Regions from separate parts of the Homo sapiens genome. Here region 1 is linked to region 2. The links come from fine-mapping of genetic effects on gene expression. Tissue or cell type: thyroid. Region 2 holds a variant in brackets; the other region holds the start of a gene. All regions are shown on one strand. Distances are between the middles of the regions. Region 1 holds the start of VN1R1 (vomeronasal 1 receptor 1). Region 2 overlaps LOC124904783 (a long non-coding RNA gene).

Region 1 (2,921 bases), 260 kb after region 2:
TAGTAAAAATGGTACTTTATAAGGAGAAGCTGAAAAAATAGGAAACCAAATGCATATTGGAAATAAATTATACAACTAGGACAATGGAGCAAAATAAGAGATTAAAGCAAAGAATCAGGAACTATCTTGAAAATAAATGATGAGTTCATATAAATAGGAAAAACATTTGTCAACAAGTGGTTTGTGGGAATCTAAAAGGTTTTCATACCTCAGAGCCTGAGTTTTTTTTTTTTTTTTTTGAGACCGAGTTTCACTCTTGTTGCTCAGGCTGGAGTGCAATGGCATGATCTCGGCTCACTGCAACCTCCGCCTCTGGGGTTCAAACGATTCTCCTGCCTCAGCCTCCCGAGTAGCTGGGATTACAGGCATGCGCCACCACCTCTGACTAATTTTTGTATTTTTAGTAGAGACGGGGTTTCTCCCTGTTGGTCAGGCTGGTCTCGAACTCCCGACCTCAGCTGATCCACCAGCCTCGGCCTCCCAAACTGCTGGGATTACAGGCGTGAGCCACCTCTCGCCTGAGAATCTTGATACTGCTGTGTTATTGATTGCTCCACCCCTAAAGAGATGTAGTTATTCATGGGAGAAAATACCTCATAATTTTCCCTGATGATAGCAATTCCATAGAGACACCAAAAGAATCTAAATTATGGCCGGGCGAGGTGGCTCATCCCTGTAATCCCAGCACTTTGGGAGGCCGAGGCGGGCGGATCACGAGGTCAGGAGATCGAGACCATCCTGGCTAACACGGTGCAACCCCGTCTCTACTAAACACACACACACACACACACACACACACACACACACTAGCCGGGCGTGGTGGTGGGCGCCTGTAGTCCCAGCTACTCAGGAGGCTGAGGCAGGAGAATGGCGTGAACCCAGGAGGCTTCAGCCTCCCGAGTAGCTGGGACTACAGGCACGCACCACAACACCCAGCTAATTTTTGTATTTTTAGTAGAGACGGGGTTTCACCATGTTGGCCAGGATGGTCTCCATCTCCTGACCTTGTAATCCACCCGCCTCAGCCTCCCAAAGTGCTGAGATTACAAGCGTGAGCCACCGTGCCTGGCCGCAGTTACTATTTCTTTTGTGATTGATATATATGAATATTGTGCAATGAAATTCCCTCCCAATTGAATTATCTTTCCCTAAAAATAAACCCAAGCTTTCTGGAACATATTGAATTTCCTATTTAACAAGTTTTAAGGATATCTTAGGTGTTTCTGGGATTAGTATTTATTTTCAGGATCTTTTGCATTTACTTGTGAGAAATGGCATTGAGATAAAAATGTGTGGGCTCAAGGTGGTCATGGTTATTTCTACGGAGTCAATTCACAATCTCTAGACCTGTCCGGTGGAAAATAACAGAAATATATGTGCTTAAAATAAAATATACCATGATGCAATGTTGATTGTTCCAAAAATTATAGTTTTTAAAAATTCTTCAAGTTAGCATTTGTACTGTGCTGAAGGCCTTGTTACCAATTGTATTGTAGCGTTTTTTTAATTTCTTTTTTTTTTTTTTTTGAGACAGAGTCTCGCTCTGTCGCCCAGGCTGGAGGGCAATGGTTTGATTTCAGCTCACTGCAACCTCTGCCTCCCAGGTTCAAGCGATTCTCCTGCCTCAGCCTCCCGAGTAGCTGGGACTAGCACGCGCCGCCATGCCCGGCTAATTTTTGTATTATTAGTATTTTGTATTATTAGTAGAGACAGGGTTTCACCATGTTGGCCAGGATGGTCTCCATCTTGGCCTCCCGAAGTGCTGGAATTACAGGTGTGAGCCACTGCACCCGGCCTAAAATTTGTTTCAATGCATCAATAACAATGGTGTTTACTAAAATATTAGTGTGGAAAAGGTTTTATGGTGTATTATTTTTGCTTTTCATATCTCCAGGCTACTTAATTGAAGGTTTTATTGAAATAAGTGTAGACTCACAAGCAGTCATAAGAAATAATACAGAAAAAGCCCTGTCCATATTACCCAGGGTTCCGTCATGATTACATTTTGCAAACTATAGTATAATATCACTCTAATGATATTGACTCTTCTGTGTTCTGTTTTTATATATTTCCCTAGTTTTGCTTGTATTTACTTGTTGCATGTGTGTAAGCCCTGAGTTTTATAGGTTTGATTTGTGGATCTGTTGTGCGGTTGAGCCCTCATTCATTCACCTGCTTCTCTGCAGTTGGACACACAAGCAATTGCCTTTGCACGAACAGGGACAATCTTAATTTCTGTTTAAGATGAGAAAATATGGTTGGAGACACATTAAAACTTCTGTCTCCACTGATGACAAGATACTTCTTTCTGCTTTTTTATTCTACTGATTCTTCAGACCTCAATGAAAATCAACATCCCCTAGATTTTGATGAAATGGCTTTTGGAAAAGTAAAATCAGGGATTAGCTTCCTCATTCAGACTGGAGTTGGGATCCTGGGAAATTCCTTTCTCCTTTGTTTTTATAACTTAATTTTGTTCACTGGACACAAGCTGAGACCCACGGACTTGATTCTCAGCCAACTGGCCTTGGCTAACTCCATGGTCCTTTTCTTTAAAGGGATACCTCAGACAATGGCAGCTTTTGGATTGAAATATTTGCTGAATGACACTGGATGTAAGTTTGTCTTTTATTATCACAGGGTGGGCACAAGAGTTTCCCTCAGCACCATCTGCCTTCTCAATGGATTCCAAGCCATTAAGCTCAACCCCAGTATATGCAGGTGGATGGAGATCAAGATTAGATCCCCAAGGTTTATTGACTTCTGTTGTCTCCTCTGCTGGGCCCCCCATGTCTTGATGAATGCATCTGTTCTTCTATTAGTGAATGGCCCACTGAATAGCAAAAACAGTAGTGCAAAAAACAATTATGGATACTGTTCTTACAAAGCATCAAAGAGATTTAGCTCATTACATGCAGTCT
Region 2 (2,921 bases):
GAGCATGAGTTTGGTCACTGGTTCCCATCCAGTGTTCCATATTTCCAAGCACTTATTGGGAAGCTGGCCCCTGCTTCTTGTCAAGGAGTCTGTGTTCAGAATTTAATAGGCAGGTGTCCTTGTCTGGAGGACCTCTAGGAGCCAGGTGGTAATTATAATTGGTATAGAAACACTGGGTATGACTAATAGGGAGTTGAGGAGATTGCGGCACACTACAAGGGATGTGCCACTTCTTTTTTTTGAGATGGAGTTTCATTCTTGTTGCCTAGGCTGGAGTGCAATGGCGTGATCTTGGCTCACTGCAACCTCCACCTACTGGGTTCAAGTGACTGTCCTGCCTCAGCCTCCTGAGTAGCTGGGATTATAGGCATGCATCACCTATGCCCGGCTAATTTTGTATTTTTTTTTTTTTTTTTGAGACGGAGTCTGGCTCTGTTGCCCAGGCAGGAGTGCAGTGGTGCAATCTTGGCTCACTGCAAGCTCCACCTCCCAGGTTCTTGCCATTCTCCTGCCTCCACCTCCCGAGTAGCTGGGACTAAAGGTGCCCGCCACCACACCCGGCTAATTCTTTTGTATTTTTTAGTAGAGACGGAGTTTCACCATGTTAGCCAGGATGGTCTCGATCTCCTGACCTCGTGATCCGCCCGCCTTGGCCTCCCAAAGTGCTGGGATTACGGGCGTGAGCCACTGCGCCCAGCCCTAATTTTGTATTTTTAGTAGAGACAGGGTTTCTCCATGTTGGTCAGGCTGGTCTCAAACTCCCGACCTCAGGTGATCCGCCTGCCTCGGCCTCCCGAGTCCTGGGATTACAGGCGTGAGCCACGCACCTGGCCTGGGATGTGCCACTTCTAAAGGTACATGCTCAGATGTTCCCATACTATGGCTATATAGGATGAGAGTATACAGAAAGTTTCAGAACTTCCACAGCTATGTCTCTTTTGTGGTCAGCATCACTCCCAGGGCAAATCTAAACATTTTGTGGATTCCCATAGACTCTAGATGGCTCAACTCAAGACCACTGCTGGGGCTGGGTGCAGTGGCTCACGCCTGTAATCCCAGCACTTTAGGAGGCTGAGGCGGGCGGATCACGAGGTC[A/C]GGATATTGAAACCATCCCGGCTAACACGGTGAAGCCCCGTCTCTACTAAAAATACAAAAAATTAGCCAGGCGTGGTGGTGGGCATCTGTAGTCCCAGCTACTTGGGAGGCTGAGGCAGGAGAATGGCATGAACCCAGGAGGCGGAGCTTGCAGTGAGCCGAGATCGCACCACTGCACTCCAGCCTGGGTGACAGAACGAGACTCTGTCTCAAAAAAAAAAAAAAAAGAAAAAAAAAAAGACCATTGCTGGGTGTGTAAGTGGGTAGGAAAACCAAGATTGAAAGAAGGAAGATCTAGCATTTCAGGGACATGGCTTTGCAACTTAGCCAGTGTTCCTGGTGAATCATGTGGAAATAGCTTTCTTGGTTGCCACTTTTTGCTGTCACTGAGGCAGGGCTGCTCCTGAAGCAAGAGGCAAGAGAGGATAGAGTCTATATAGGGTTGCCTATAGGATTTGTCTGTGTTTTCCCAGTTTTCTTTTTTGTTTTGAGACAGGGTCTCTCTCTGTCAACCCAGGATAGAATGCAGTGGCACTATGATAGCTTACTGTAACCTTGAACTCTTGGGCTCAAGTAATCCTCAGCCTCCTAAGTAGCTGCGATTACAGGCATGTGCCATCACACCTGGCTAACTTTTTTGTTTGTTTTTGTTTTTGGAGATGGAGTCTCACTGTATTGCTCAAGCTGGTCTTGAACTCCTGGCTTCAAGTGATCCCAAAGCACTGGGATTACAGGCATGAGCCAGCATGCCTGGCTGGTTTTCCTAATTTCTTAAAATGAACTGTCATTTATTTGTGAACTCTCTTCTTGTATAATAATATAGGCTATAAATTTCCCTGTAAGTACTGCTTTAGCAGTATCCCCCAAATTTTGATATAGTGTGCACTTGTTTTGTGTGAGATGGAATTAGTTTAAAATTGGACTGGAAAAGCTCTAGTTTTGTCTGTAGGGACTTTAGGTATCTCATTTTGACATTTAAATGCAGTGAGCTTTATTATTATTGTTTAACATCTGGAAGATCCCATGACAATATGGAGGGCAAGTTTGACTGCTGATGGTTTCTGGTTGGCATACATGATTAGGTAGGCACTCTGGCTCAACTGTGTTACCCCAGAAGGGTATAAAATCCCTGCTGGGATCCTCTGACTTGAGCTCTCCTGAAGCCAGCATTTCTCTCTCAGATATTGGTGGCTTGATCTGGAAGTGAATCATATCAGTGTATGAATGGGAGTCTGGAAAACTGCCTGGATTTGTGTCTGACATAGCATATGGGCACGCATTCTTTCTCTTGCTGCACCATATCCTTTGCCTTAACAAAACCTCACGCGAGTATTCTCTGTGGAGTTTTGTGAGTATTTTCAATTACATTTTTGAAATTTTTTCATTTGGTGATGAAAATGGGATATTTGCTATGATCTCTGAGTCCATTTTAAATAATAATGGCTAAGGAGTTATTGGGCAGAATGAAATATGGTAGAGGCTGGTGAGGAAGATTTTTTGTGAATAGGTTGGCTTCCAGTCCTTGGATTGAGATTGCACAAGTTATGTGATTCACTCACAAACAGGAGGAAGAATATAAGTAGGACCTGGAGTCTGTGGGTCGGAGGGGATAACTAAATGTCCTGCAAAACACCCAAACACCTCCCATTAGGCCCACCTCCAACACTGGAGGTCACATTTCAACATGAGATTTGGAAGGGACACACATCTAAACTATACCAGCTGTAGATTCTAGCCTGTAGTTAAGTACACTACCATACCTTTTCCTAACTCCATCCTGCAGACCCAGCTAATTGATGTCATGGTAAAAGGGGAGGCAACATGAT

What was found. PIP is the estimated chance that this variant, and not a neighbour inherited with it, causes the effect.
Region 1: it holds the start of VN1R1, and the variant in region 2 is the best candidate, but not a certain one, in a credible set for the expression of VN1R1 in thyroid (GTEx, PIP 0.73).

What each region holds. Positions count from the first base shown.
Region 1 is chr19:57,455,820-57,458,740 of GRCh38, reverse strand. It overlaps VN1R1 (vomeronasal 1 receptor 1), which reads left to right and starts at 1,601. Exons shown (of 1, transcript NM_020633.4): 1 at 1,601-2,921. The coding sequence starts at 2,255.
Region 2 is chr19:57,716,538-57,719,458 of GRCh38, reverse strand. It overlaps LOC124904783 (a long non-coding RNA gene), which reads right to left. Exons shown (of 2, transcript XR_007067359.1): 2 at 2,062-2,292. Among named protein-coding and RNA genes, the nearest start is that of ZNF154, 8.8 kb to the right of the region's middle. The variant A/C (reference allele first, on the strand shown) is at 1,096.